Homo sapiens: one gene and its partner. The protein of the gene in region 1 purifies or fractionates together with the protein of each later gene. This does not show direct contact. Each region holds a gene or a part of one and is shown on either strand. Other genes may lie near its edges.

What was found. The genes of interacting proteins can lie anywhere in the genome.
Region 2: the proteins of LPIN1 (region 1) and FBXW11 purify together in Homo sapiens (affinity purification with mass spectrometry; 4 studies listed by BioGRID and IntAct, with this or other methods). This does not show direct contact.

What each region holds. Positions count from the first base shown.
Region 1 is NC_000002.12:11,770,622-11,777,640, reverse strand, and holds part of LPIN1 (phosphatidate phosphatase LPIN1), read right to left. Parts: intron 6,270-7,019; coding exon 5,962-6,269; intron 4,022-5,961; coding exon 3,896-4,021; intron 1,556-3,895; coding exon 1,448-1,555; intron 1-1,447. UniProt on the Homo sapiens protein: Acts as a magnesium-dependent phosphatidate phosphatase enzyme which catalyzes the conversion of phosphatidic acid to diacylglycerol during triglyceride, phosphatidylcholine and phosphatidylethanolamine biosynthesis and therefore controls the metabolism of fatty acids at different levels.
Region 2 is NC_000005.10:172,003,620-172,011,545, reverse strand, and holds the start of FBXW11 (F-box/WD repeat-containing protein 11), read left to right. Parts: upstream 1-4,907; 5' UTR 4,908-5,043; coding exon 5,044-5,088; intron 5,089-7,926.

The DNA of each region.
Region 1 (7,019 bases):
CTGCTGTGGTGGTGTGAAAGCAGCCACAGCCAGTATGTAAACCAACTGCCTATGCCCGGGAAAGTCTGACAGAGGCAGATGGTGGACCAGATTTGACCCATGGGCCGTGCTTTACCAACCTCTGCTCTAGAAGAACGAAATGCGGAACACGGTTCTCCTGCAGCAATTCCCAACTCCAGAGTTCCTAACATTCTGGTCCCTTCATAAAAGCCACGAGCCACAAAACCCATAGAGGCACTCAGGCGTGCAACTCACGCATAAGGAGCCCAGCCCTACGAGAAAGTCTGCTGCAAGTCCCTCCCCAACAGCAAACAGGCCACCACCATAAATGCTGCCCGTTCAGGCCACAGCAACCCTTCTCCAAAGGTCTCGTGCACAAACACAGATGCGCTTTCTGCCGACCGTCACTGAGGGAATTCAGACAGACCAAAAAGGACGCAGGAATGGGGCCCACTGCCAAGTGGGATTTACCAGAAAGATGACTCCAAAGTGCTCCGTCATGAAATATTATTATTTTAAGATCAAGGGTTGTTCAAAAAAGTAAGCTTACAAGGTCAATGACTGATGTTCATAAACAAGGTATTTATTAGCCTTATCAAAGTTTTCAGTATTTTTGCCAGTCCCAATAAGGCTAGTTAGTTTTAACTATTAACAACTTTGTTTTCCTCATTTTAAACGGACTTTTCTTCTGCAAATGTAGCCTCTGAATGAAGTACATCCTGAGGTCTGGATCTTTAATCAAAAAGACAAAAGGTTTTCCACGTACAAATTAATCGTAGCTTCATTTGCTAAGGCTTACAAAGTAAACCATGTAAGTCCACAAAGTAGGTAGGTCAAAACTGAGGGAATGAAGGCAGAAATCTGAGATGACTACATCGAGTGAACACACCAACCTTTGATCCTCAGCCTGAGACCCAGCCCAGGCCATTCTCCAAGATTCTGTTCTAGAAATGCTGTGGAAAGTGTCTGACTCCATTATTCAGACAGCCCAATAAACTACTTAAATGTTTATAATAAATTAAAGTGGTATTCCAAAAATATCTTGTAAACTTATTTGTCAAACAACCCGAGACAGAAAACAGAAGATCATATTCCCAAGCTATATTTCATTATTCTCATTTTCAAAGCACTTCACAGAATTAGGTAAAATTATATGCTTAACCATAATTTCCAGAGAGTCAAATTTAGGAATTAAAAAAAAAAAAAAATCTGATCATCTACAAATGCTTATAACGAAAGGAAAAGAGTAATCTATATACATATTTTTCATAAGTAATTTGGTTAGTGAAATCGATTTGTAAAAGTTAAATCAAAATTTTCACTTCATATAATCTACAGGTATTTTCTTCATAAGTAATTTGGTTAATGGTAAAATAGACTTATAGTAAGAGTTAGATCAAATTTTTCATTATTGAATATATCCCAATGGGGAAAATAACTCCTCTACCTTTCCGAAGGATGGAACAGGGAAGACTGTGGAGGGCAAGAACTAGACAGACCTCCCTCGGCCGCAACTGCAAGATGAGGGGCAGTCCTTTTGCAATCTACCAGGCTACTGGATACCACCACGTGATACACATTAAAAGAAAGACAAAATCAGAGGTCAATTACATCAAGTGAGATTATATAAAGTATATGTAATATACTTTATATAAAGATTATATATAAGATTATATAAAGTATATATAATATACTTTAAAGACTATATATAAGATTATATAAAGTATATATAATATACTTTATATAAAGATTATATATAAGATTATATATAATTACAAAGTATATATACTTTATATAAAGATTATATATATTACGTAAAGTATTTGACTACTCTCAACAACGACATTTTTAAGAAAATAAAGAAACTCAGACATCTGATAATGGCAGAGCACCGGATATTGAAATTGCTAAGAAATCAGCATGAATTTTCTGAGACACAAAAGCAGGAAACTGCCAAATGACCTATTTCACTTTCTGTTTCACCCATGTGTAGAACTGATCATCTCTGGTCACACTTTCGTGCTTAATCAAACTACATAATCCAAAAATGTGCTCGTGTGTGCTGTCAATTGTCTCTTTACAGAAAATACCTAATTCCAAATGTGGAAATGTAGCTATTTATCCTAATTTGTCATTCCATTTGGTGATAGTCAGAGCTACATAACCTGACTCAGTCATTATGCTGCATTCATGAGGCAAAACATTACAGATGTTTTGAGCATTAAACACGCTCAGAGTTGTGTTTAAAGTGTTTCTTTTAAATCCTTAAAATTAACATACAGTGCTTGAACAGATTTTTTCATCTATTATTGGGTTCTAAATATTCTACATTATTTTCCTCCTAAACCACTATTTTTCCCTCCACTATTTTATCTCCACAGACCTAGAGAAAGAATGAGAATCTAGAAAGGTCTTATATCTGCACTGTCCAATATAATAAACCACCAGCTACAGGTGGCTCCTGAGCACTTGAAACGTGGCTTGTCCAAATTGGGATGTTCTGCGCATGTGAAATACATAATGGAGTTTATAAAGACTTGGTATGTAAACAGAAATGTGATGTATCTCATTAATAATTCTTTAAAATTGATTGCTTGTTGAAATGATATTTTGGAAATACTGTGGTCAAATGAAATATAGCTTTAAAATTAATTTCATCTTTTTTTTTTTTTTTTACTTTTTAAAAATAGGGCTACTGGAAATCTTAAAATTACATATGGAGCTAGTTATTACGTTTCTATTGAACAGGGCTAGGCTCTGACGCAGGAAGACCTCCATGCAGGGACTTTGTCACAGGCCTCAGCCTCAGCCTGCTGGACTAACCCGCGACATCAGTATTGGCTGGAAACCAGGCATGGGACATATCTATTTTCTCTCCAACCTCCATGTCAGCACACACTGGGGACTGCTGCTTGCTAATTCACAAGGTTACCCTGATCAAACTGGAACCAGGGGTGGCGTTTTGATAAGACCGGCTTCAGGTAGGAACCCAGAGTTTCTAAGGGCTGGCACCATGAACCAGAAGCGAATCTAAAGCATGAGGTATACGAATAACCCAAGGATGTCACTGGCATTTAGATCAGCGTTTCTCAGTCTCTTTTTCATTATCAACATGCCCCTGAGCATTCTGAGAAATTAATAGCCCAACTCCACCCACCATGAGATTTTAATGCTGTGGCCCCTTAGAGACCACAAACCATTATAACGTCTAAGATTTTGTCACCACCCAAGAATGAATTTTCATCCCAATGGGGGTTATATTATTTCCTGTGTTGAGAACACAGGATTTAGCTCTACCCTCTTCCCCAAGTCCTTTGAAAACTAGCCAGGGGGCTCACTATTCCCAGAGGTTTCACTGATGTAAACATCTCTGGGGTCATCAGGATGGCATCTGCACAGTGAGCAGCTCTAGTTCTCCAAGTTTTCCTCTAGGGCAACTTGTGAGTTCATTTCAGGGAAATAAATATTCTTGAATTCGGCAGAATGGATTAAGTGTGGCGGAGGCACCATTCTAATAGCCCTGAACGACCTCAGCAGCTCCTGAAGCAACGTCTGTTTTTGAATTTTACTTAGGGCTAAGTATCAAGAAAGGCTCTGCCACTGTGTTTTCTCCTATTAACAATTAGCATGATGTAATTTACATGTTTTTCCTTTCAAGTTCACCTCCAGGGAGCTAACAGCCATATCTGCAGATGGATTCTGACACCAGATATAAGTGTATGATCTGAACATGTTCTGTGTTTGATCCTAATCTGTACCTCCGACTCTACACCGTGTTTTTCCTGGTCCTAATTATTTTCACTTTTCATTTCTATTTCATTCTTTTCTTAGAATTGCTTCCTATCACTGACTTCTAAGCCTCTGCACTGGGCCAGGGGAACAGGGAACAGCTTACCTGGGAGTGGGTGACCACTCTCTATCCGAATTAGGGTATGAGGCTGACTGAGGGTAAATCACAGCCAGGGAGAGGTTTTCCTCAGGAATATCATCTTGGAATGGAGGTATATCATTAGGAAGAGTTCTGGAGGAAAAAAAAAAAGATTAAAGTCAAAGAATTCTTAATGATAGATTCATAATCAAGTTCCAATTTTTTCTTGATTAGCTCTAAGTGCTTTGTAATTAACATGATCTCTTTAAACACCCAGATCTGTTCCAGGCAGTGGAGGGGGAAAAAGTGAGATACCGGCATCCATAAACGTGTCTATGTGCTAATGCTTTGGCCGAATTCTAATTGTAAAATGATTTTGTTTCAGCATTTGGACTCAGACACACATGCAGTGATCACACTGCTGGATCCTCCCATCGTGCCACCTCCTGCTACCCTACACGGTCATGTTCCAAAAGCCTGGGAGGTAGAGTGGCCCCAAACCGGCCCCAGGGCGGTATAAAACCCCTGCCAGGTACAGGCAGAACTGCTGAATAACTCAATGACCATACGCTGATCACATTTTGTCTAGCAGAAGAAATAAATGGCATCAACCAAACATGCCTTACGATTACAGAATAACTGCAAATGACCTCGTTTCAGGTATAAGCACACTCACTACTAAATACAATTCACAATTTCAATCATGCAGAGGCCATCTGTCTATATGTTGATGTTACCTGGAACACCTACCACTAAATTTTGTACTTAACAGCCATGCAGAGAAGGCAATTATAAGAAGCCCAATGACGCTGGTTCTAAGCCTGTCACAGGTTAGATAGAGGCTGTAGTTGGGAAAAGCAATATTCGTTGCCAGTTGACATTTATTTTTCACCACGAAAAAAGATATATTTTATTCCAAATAATGACACAGGAAGATACTCCTGATTCCCCTTATCCCTTCTTTATGTTAACAAAATTATCAAAAATTATACCGAATTATGTAAAAATCTGAAACATCAAATATCCTTCAAAATGAATTTTATCTTTTAAAACTGGCATTTTTCACCAAAATAGTAATACATACAAACAGAATTTCACCACACTGTTAAAAGCAAAGAAAAAGGAAACAAAATTTCCATTAAACTTTGGACCTAAGTCAAAATTAAAAAGGAAAAAGTTGGCTTATAGAGAAAACAGCATTTTCTTCATTCACTTTTAAGCCTGAAATCAGCCCTTGCCTATAAATCAGCCCAGTTGTGCATCGTTGGTGCTCAAATAAGAATAAATAGGTTCCAAGAAAATGGGTTTGGTCATGAACTATTAATTTGCTCAGTTCCTGTTTCTTGACTCCATTCCAGGCTGCTAAAGCGATCAGCCAAGGAGGTTTGGCATCACCAACTGTCTCTTGGCTACAGCACAGCAAATCTTTATACCACTCTAGGATTGGGTCCACATGATTCCAAAATTCAGCCTAAAATAGGGGTCCCCAACCCCTGGGGTCCATGCCCCTGTTAGAAACTGGGCCACATGGCAGGAGGTGAGCGGCGGGCAAGCTGGCAAAGCTTCATCTGTGTTTGCAGTCGCTCCCCATCCCTCACATTACCACCTAAGCTCCTCCTCCTGCCAGATGAGTGGCAGCATCAGATTCTCACAGGAGCACGAACCCTGTTGTGAACTGCACATGTGAGGGATCTGGGCTGCGCACTCCTTGTGAGAATCTAATGCCTGATGATCTGTCACCCATCACCCCCAAGATGGGACCGTCTAGTTGCAGGAAAACAAGCTCAGGGCTCCCACTGATTCTACATGATGGCGAGTTGTATAAGTATTTCATTATATATTACAATGTAATAGTAATGGAAATAAAGAGCACAATAAATGTAATATGCTTGAGTCCTCCTAAAACCATCCACCCCTGGTCCATGGAAACACTGTCTTCCACAAAACTGGTCCCTAGTGCCAAAAAGGTTGGGGACCACTGGTCTAAAACACATAAAAGAATAAGGAATTATGGGGGAAAAGTTCATAAAAATAATCTTGAACAGTTAACTGTCTGATTCTGGCACAGCCCCTCCACCCTGGACAGTTATTACCTGCTGCTCTCCAGCAGCTCCATGGCCTCATCCGAGCTCATCTCGATGGGGAACATGTCCTCATCCTCAGATGTGTTCATGTTGTCATCTCTCTTCAGGCTGTCCAGCTGTGACTTTCTCCTCCTTTTTCTTCTCTTCTTTACTACAGAGCTGCTTGACGGCGTCTCGCTGGGAGCGATCACTTGGGCTGGCGTGCTGGGGTCCAGGCCTCTCATCCTGTCCACAGAGCCCCTTTTCAGCTGGCATTCCATTCTCGAAGCTCCTTCTGACAGGATGGGGGAGGTGGCCAGGTGCATAGGGATAACTTCCTAAGAAAAGAACACATTTTCTAAAAAGAGCCTCGTTAATTCAGGTATAAGAAGCAGGGCCTTGCCAGAGGCCTCCAGGATTCACTTCAGAGGCCAAGCACCTCCTGGGGAGGGCCACAGCAGATGGCCCAGCTAGAGGCCACAGCCATGGTGACCTGGAGATGTGGCTGCCCAATCTGGTAGAAGATCAGAAAGCCAACAATGTATTGAATGCCACTTTGTACTCAATCCTGCATTTATGTAATTTTAACAATGGGAGGTAATTCTCAGTGATCTCAAGCCCCCAAAATTCAACTTTGGCTGTAATACCCAGAGCACAGAGGAAAAAAATGGGCTTTGACTCACCATATTATGCTGGGAATTGGATGCACTCTTGCACTTCTGTGTAGATGTGGGTGTGCATGGGTGGGTGTGAGAGAAAGACAGAGAATGTGTATTGTGTATTTTTTATATGCAATGAATTAAGATAATAACCATCTAAAAACCAAAAACACGTAAAACAACCGATAGCCCCGCCCAAGAACCTGCCTGCACCAGGGCCCAAGGAGGGCCCTGAACATCGAGGAAGTAGATACTGATCCTCTCCTTAAAGACAAAAGGAAAAAACACAACCTGTCCATTTAGTAGTTGTTTGTAATGATTCAGCAGTTTTTATAAAACTCTAGTAATCATTTTATTAATGAATGCCTCATTTTGTATGAGAAACTCGTTGACAATAAGAATATACATAAAACAGAGGGGATAAATAAA
Region 2 (7,926 bases), on another chromosome or scaffold:
AGTACAAGACCAGCCTGACCAACATGGTGAAACCCTGTCTCTACTAAAAATACAAAAAATTACCCAGGTGTGGTCGTGGGCGCCTGTAATCCCAGCTACTTGGGAGGCTGAGGCAGGTGAATTGCTTGAACCCAGGAGGTGGAGGTTGCAGTGAGCCGAGATTGTGCCATTGCACTCCAGCCTGGGCAACAAGAGCAAAACTCTGTCTCAACAAACAAACAACCCCCAAAATTAGCTGGGTGTGGTGGCACGCACCTGTAATCCCAGCTACTTATGGGCAGCTGAGGCAGGAGAATCTCTTGAACCTGGGAGACGGAGGTTGCAGTAAGCCAAGATTGCGCCACTGCACTCCAGCCTGAGCAACAGAGTTAGACTCTGTCTCAGAAAAAGAAACAAAAAAAAGCCTGGGCACGGTGGCTCAGGCCTGTATTCCCAGCACTTTGGGAGGCCGAGGCAGGTAGGTCACGAGGTCAGGAGTTCAAGACCAGCCTGGCCAACATGGTGAAACCTTGTCTCTACTAAAGATACAAAAAATTATCCAGACTTGATGGAGCACGCCTGTAATCCCAGCTACTCAGGAGGCTGAGGCAGGAGAATTGCTTGAACCCGGGAGGCGGAGGTTGCAGTGAGCTCAGGTCACGGCCACTGCACTCCCGCCTGGGTGACAGGGCGAGACTCCATATATAAATATAAATATAATATATAAAATATAAATATATAAAAATATATAAATATAAATATATATAAATATATAAATATAAATATATAAATATATAAAAATATAAATATATATACACATACATATATATATGTATATATTATATATATGTATGTGTGTATATATATATATATATATATATATATATATATATATATATATATATAGTTACAGGAAATTGCCTACTGAGGTGCCACTAAACTCACCGGGAAGCCACCACCCTCTGAATGTCCCAGCCCCCTTTGTGTGTGGGGAGGAAGGGATGGTTCTATAAGCCATTTGCTGCCATGTGCCACAAAGCAAGAAGGAAAAGAAAGTACACTGGAACCAGGATGAGAAGCCCCTTCATTCTGCTGTGTTCCTCTAGTGCTCTCTACTGACAAAGTTAAACACTGTGCCAGCTGGCAGAGAAGTATTTACAGGATCCTGCTCCAGTATTTCAAAGCATAGAAAAGAAGGTTAGATTTGGAGCTATGAGGTTATAAATTGATGGCAGGCACATACATGTTCTGCTGCAGAAGAAGGTATTTGATTACGGAGTGCTGTCCTGAGACCCCAGAAGGAGTGTTACATTGTACAGTTTATGTAATGCACCATTGTGCCTTTGTACAATCTAAGCAATTCTGGGTTCTGAACTGGACCTCAGGGGAATCACGACCTGTACCACTTTGTTATGATCATGTCTTGCAAACCTCAGTGAAGAGCTATCTGAAACACGGTGGGAAAATATGCCTCAGGGTGTTCTGCCTTTGTCTATGACCAAATCTAATCAACAGCTGCCATCAAGCCTGAAGCAATAAGAGCACCTGAGTTCTTGTTTGAGAAGAGGTGAGAGCAAGGTGATAAAGCCTTGGCTCAGCTTGCCTCTTACGTAGCTTGGATAAGACTTCTTTTATCATATATATAGTGTTTATTTATTTATTTATTGTTGTTGTTTTGAGACAGGGTCTTGTTCTGTCACCCAAGCTGGTCTGGTACCCAAGCTGGTCATTCTGTCACCCAGGCTGGAATACAGTGGTGCAATCATGGCTCACTGCACCCTTGACCTCTCAGGCTCAAGTGATCCTCCCACCTCAGCCTCCTGAGTAGTTGCAGCCACAAGCGTGAGCCATCATACTTGGCTAATTCCTATGTATGAGCTTTTAACCCCACTGAGCTCCTGGAATTTGACCTAATAATATTAGTACTTTTTTCCTTTTAAGGCAGCATACAATTTTCTTTTTTTTTTTTTGTAGATCATGGTGCAGCCACAGAGATGGTAGCCCCTCCCTATGCTCCCAGGTATACGATTTTAATAAAAGGACAGAAACCTTGATTTATCTCCACTACAGTTCCAATGCCAGGGGATGCAAACTCAAATATCTATACAGGTTAGGGATGCAACTTAAATGAGTGAAGCATGCAGATACAAGGCAAAAAGGAGTGATGGCAACTGTGGAAAACCATAGAATATATGCTTAAATAAAGGTAGTTGCTATTTAACCCCTGCATATTGTTGCCATGTAGATCTAATTGTCAGATATTCTAATTTTTCAAGAAAAGCTGGAAATTCAGATTTTGAAAACCTGAACATCAAATTTTAAAAACAGTAAAAAAGACGGTATAGGACAAACATATGTATGTGCCGGGTCGGCGGGGGGAGGGTCACATCCAGCTTGTGACTCCTACCCCATGCCTGTTTTTATGCCCCTGTACAATCCTTTCCCACACTGACTATGGGTGTGGCCATACTACTAGTTTTGGCCAACGGGACATTACCAAGTGTGGTGCATACCAGAGGTTTGATAAGCATTTGTTCACTGGGGCTTGTCCTTTCTCAAGTCACTATGCAGACGTTTGAATGATAAAAAGCCACAGGGAGGAGAGGCCCTAGAAGATGAAAAGTCATTTTGAATGAGTTCCCAGCTGATTGCATGTGGGCCCCGGCTGAGCCCGGGTCAGCCCACACAATTGTAAAATCATAATAAACCATTGTTATTCTAAGCTACTAAGTCTTCGGAGGTTTGTTGTGTTGCAACAGGTAACTGAAATAGAGGTCATATCTAATCCCTTTGTTTTACTAATGAATGTCCTAAGGGCCATAGTGGAACGGACCTGGTGAAATTCAGATAGCATGACAGTGGTAAGAACTTTCCAATTCTGTGCTCTTCCTATTGCTTTTCTTTCAATTCCCTTGGTGAAAAGCACCAGGTAAGGACTATGAAACTTCAAAGTCTACCTGCAGGGAACTTATACTGTGTCCTGAATGCATGCAAATTACTGTAACTTGGTCCTTGGTAATGGAAAGATTTCTAGGTCATCCAGCCTCTTTGACTTTATAGGTGCAGAGAATGCAAAAACACTTTGAGAAAGTGAAAAGCAGCCTCTGATATCTGGAAGCTGGCCTGGTACAATCAGCCATGCCATGATGTTACTAGACCACAGCCTGGCCCTTATAGCTAGGCTTTGTGTTTTCCTGTAGAACAAAAACAATTCCAAAGAACATCAACATCAGACGAGGTCATTCTGTGACCATGATAGATCCAGACAAATACAAGACCACTCTATAATCAGGTCTAAACACGATAAAAAGATAAAACCTGATGATTGTCCAAACCACAAAAAATGACTCAACATCCCCACTTGGCTAATATGAGGGAGCTGCTGCTGCACTTTTTTTTTTTTTTTTCGTTTTTGAGACAAGGTCTGGCTCTATCACTCAGGGTACAGTGGAGTGGTGCGATCTCCATTCACTGAAACCTCCACTTCCTGGGCTCAAGCGATCGTCCCACCTCTGCCTCCCAAGTAACTGAGATGACAGGCGCGCACCACCAGGCCCGGTTCATTTTTGTATTTTTTGTAGAGAAGAGTTTCGCCATGTTGCCCAGGCTGGTCTGGAACTCCTGCGCTCAAGCAATTCGCCTGCCTCGGTTTACCAAAGTGCTGGGATTACAGGCGTGAGCCACTGCGCCCGGCCAGGCTGCTGTTTCTTTATCTGCACAGCTTTAGCCTCAATCTAGAATTCCCTTCCTCTAGATAAGATGAACTGAGATGCTCAATCATGGAACGACCCTCTCTTCCTGACAGTATCTAATCCAGTGAAGCTCTCACTTCCTTAAACCCTCTCCCAAATCACTAACAACTCTTACCGAGAGGCCCTATCGTTCCTCAATGTGTGTTCTCAGTCACTGCAACTAGTAATAAACCCAGCTTGTTCAACGATCCGTGTCTTCCTGGTGGGATTTGGTTAGAGGGCACGGACAGACCTAAGTTACACAGAGTTGGAGGCTGAGTTCACTAGAAGGAGTCTCCGCTTGTGTGTTCCTTCTTAGCCACTCTTTTGGTTAGTGTCTGTCGTCCCTCCACCAGAATTAAGCTCCATGAGAACAGGAGCCTTGTCTGTCATGTTCAGAGCTGATTCTCAGCGCCTAGAACGGTACGCAGCGGAAGCTGGATGCTTAAAAAATAACCATTTTCTGAACGAATGAATGAGGGGCTCGATATACGCACGTCCCCTTTAATCTCGCAGCTCCTCGCAGATCGTGTGACATACAGACAGCACCACAGCACATTTCCCAAAACCCCGTCTTTCCCGAAGAAATCTCGAAACTCTCACTCCTGGGATGCCCATCCTCTCAGAGCCTCTTCCCCAGGCCGAGCTTCTCTCACTCGCTGGCCCCTTCCCACACCTGAGCCCCAGGTCTATACACCTTCCTAACGCACCTAGAACCCACCTGTCTCCACCATCTGCCCCTACCATCAGACACTGCCGGACGGGCCGCGCAGCTACCTAGGCGTCTAGGGAGCACTGCGGCATGGACCGCGCATGTGCGGAAATGGGTCGCATACGCAGGACCTCCGACAAGTGAGGAGTTGCCTCGGAGTTTCCGTCCCGGTCTGGGCAGCCTTGGGCTGCCAGGAAGTCAAGAGAAGCTAGCCGGAAGGACAACCCGGGCGCACGGCTTTCTGGGACACGTAGTCGTGGCGCTCTCGAGGCCCTGCCATGAGCAAGCTCTTAACTCTTCAGGTCTGCACGTCCTACGCCCACCGTCCAGTGCTACTCTCAGCTCGGAGTTCAGCTTCGGGCTGCCAAGAGCCAGCAACCTGGTGTCAGAGGCTCGGTCCCACAACGCTCTGCGGGCCGCGGCGCCTGCTGGGAGGTGTAGTCCCCGATCTGCGTACTGCGTTCGCCGAGGGGGAGGGCGGAGCTGCCGGCGGCCCGGGCGGGCTGGCAGCTAGAGTGGGTGCGATAGCCGCCTCCGCCTCTGCCGCCTCCGCCGTCGCCTCCTCCGCCCGGGCCGTTCGCTGCTGCGCGGGGAGAGCGAGGCGGGGCCGCCGGGGCCGCCATGGAGCCCGACTCGGTGATTGAGGACAAGACCATCGAGCTCATGGTGAGTGCGGCCCGCTGGACCGTCTGTGCTTCCGTCCGTCCGGCCCCGGGCGGGCCTGCCCACCTCAACGTCCGGTGCGAGGCCGGCTCTGGCCCTTCCCAGACGCCTCGACCCAGACCCGGGCCCCCAGCCTTCCCTGGCCTCGGACCTGGCGCGGGCTCCTCTGATCCCTCGACATCTCCGGCCGGTCCTGGCCCGGCCCCCTCCATGCCCCTCGCTTCTCCCCCTCCCCCTGGTCCCGTCTCCGGTCCCAGCTCTCGGACGACCCTCGCTCGTTTATGCTGTAGACTTAGGTCGCACTCGCTCTAGCACCCCATTCTCCTTCTTTTAGAAAGGGATTTTTTTTTCTTTCCTCTGTTTCGGCCCAGGCCCGCACCGCGCTTGCAAGCCCCACTCAGGCCGAGTGAGATGGTGGGAAGGAGTACGGAGATGGGTTGGGGCCGCCTGGGCCTCCGCGTCCTAGGAGAGGTCTCAGCACCCACTCCCCAGCCTAGGTCTGTGTGGATGCCAGGATAGGCCCTACAGAGCTGGGGGGGCAGGGAGCTTTCGGGTTTGAGGCTGTGGCGGATAAGGAGGCCTCTTTCCCGGGCCCTTGTGGTGTCCGGCTTCTCGGACAAAGGGTTTCCTACCCGGCGGAGAGGGATGTTTGCATAGCAAGGGCCCAGGTACTCTGGATTCCATCCTCCAGGAAAGAGAAGGCGCAACTTCACGTTTTCCAGAGCTGCTTTGGGAAATTGGAGATGACTGGGGAGGGAGCCATCCTCATCACTGCCGCGAGGTCTTTCTTCTCAGAAAGAAAAAAAAAAGAGGGGAATCCTTGGCCCCCGGGGGAAGCGACCACTCTTCTGTTAGAAACCACTGGCAGCCAGGCCAGACTCCCGGTCCGTGGACACCCTCCACCCTCCTCCGAAGCTTTAGGATTTGAAACCAGAAGGGGTTTTTAGGAACAGGACAGTGAGAGAGTGGCTAGAAGTGAAGAATTTGCTAATTGATGGATGATTTGGTGGAAGAAATAAAATATGGCAGATATTACCTGCCAACGTGAACATGAGGGAAATCAAATTGGGCTCTGGAGAGCTGGGAAGAGGAAGTCTGCATCAGCAAATGGACATGTCCAGGATTTCTTCCTATGGAAGCCTTGACAGTTTCTTTGTATCTTTCCTAACACGGTAACAACTTCTTCCCCAGGGTTGAGAGGAGAGGTGGAAGAATCTACTTAACCCAGCAAAATGTTTTCCTAGCCAGATTTTCTTCAGTGTGAAAATGTTTATTGAGTCAGTGATTCCACTGGGTAGGGTTGGTGACATCAGAGCCACTTCCCCCATTTAACGCTATAAATAATAAATGGTGACACTGAAAGTCTGTTGGATAGCTGCATGGTTTCTGTGGATGATGGTGTCTGGGGAGTTGAGATGCTTGTTTTAAAAATGGAAGTACAGTAGCATAAATATGGAGGCAGCTTAATGTTTGCTGTCCTTTGCATAATTCACAGAACTGGACTTCTCTAGCATTCTTGAAAACTAGGAGGGAAAAAAAGAAACTGATAGTTTTTGATTTTTGCATGCGTGTGTGTGTGTGTGTGTGTGTGTGCACGTGGGGTTGTTTTCAAAGGGATGTCACATACTGAGTGATTTTTCCTTTTCAGCATAATTTATCATACTTGTAGTCAAGTGTTTGGTATTCTGTAACTTTTGTAGTGGGTTATTTTGGTAACTATCTTAAATCGACTAAGTATATTACATATTCTTAAGAATGTACACACAGTGCATGTACTTACAACAGAAGTACTTCATATCGAAAAATTGTAACTTGGTGCCTCTTTGAAATTGGCTGTTCCCAGCTCCTTCCATTTCTATTCCTTTAAAAAATAACGAAAATGTATTTATTTTCAAAAGAATTATAAGAAATACGTTGTAACCCAAGTCAGTGTATGGTTACAAAATAAAAAAATAAAAACCTTTGGCCTAAATTCACTGGCTTCCTATGCTTATAACTTAAAAAGTTTTGATTTTACATGATAGCACTTGGTTTTGATCAGAAAAGAGATTTCAGCCTGTTAAGGACATTATAAACTGGGATTTAAACTGGAATTCTTTGAAAATTTAACAGAGTTTAGTTATATTACGATTAATTTTAAAATGGCCTTTTATTTAAGGATTTTGATATTTCCTGAAAGGGATATCAGTTAAGACTCTTAGACAACCCTTATCATAAATTAAATATGTGTATTTATTTTAGTAAAGTAGCACAGGTGCTTAACAACTGATTGAGTAAATCCAGGATCAAATGTAGGAAATAATGCCTTAGAATCTAATTGCATGTGGCTTTCTGTTTTCACTGCATTTCAATTACAGTTTCCAGAACTGGGTTAAAAATATTTTTTACATTGGTTTCAAGATAATACGATTGATGGAGGAAAAGGGGTTAAACTGATGGTGTTTTGAAAGCCTAAAGCATGAAATATTTTTAGATTTTTATGAGTCAGCTTCAGTACTCAAATATTTGTGATTGTGCTGCTTGTACCAGTTTGGCACTTAATGCTTAACAAGATAACTTTCATTTGCTGTTCCAAAGTGTGCTGTATTAAAAAGAGGAAACAGACTTCTTGGTTATCTCCATTTTCTAATCTTCATCCCTGTACTTTCCTTAATATTGATTCTTCTGTTTTTCCTTGCATTTTTGATAAGTATATTAGGAAATAAAGCTGGTGATAGCAGAATAGTTAAATTTCTAAAATATAACCCCCACTTTGACTCCTACCGCTGCCTGAGGCCTGGGTCCACCCAGGTTGCTTCTCCTCCTGACCCACTCTATAGGATTCAGCTTTGAATATTAGTA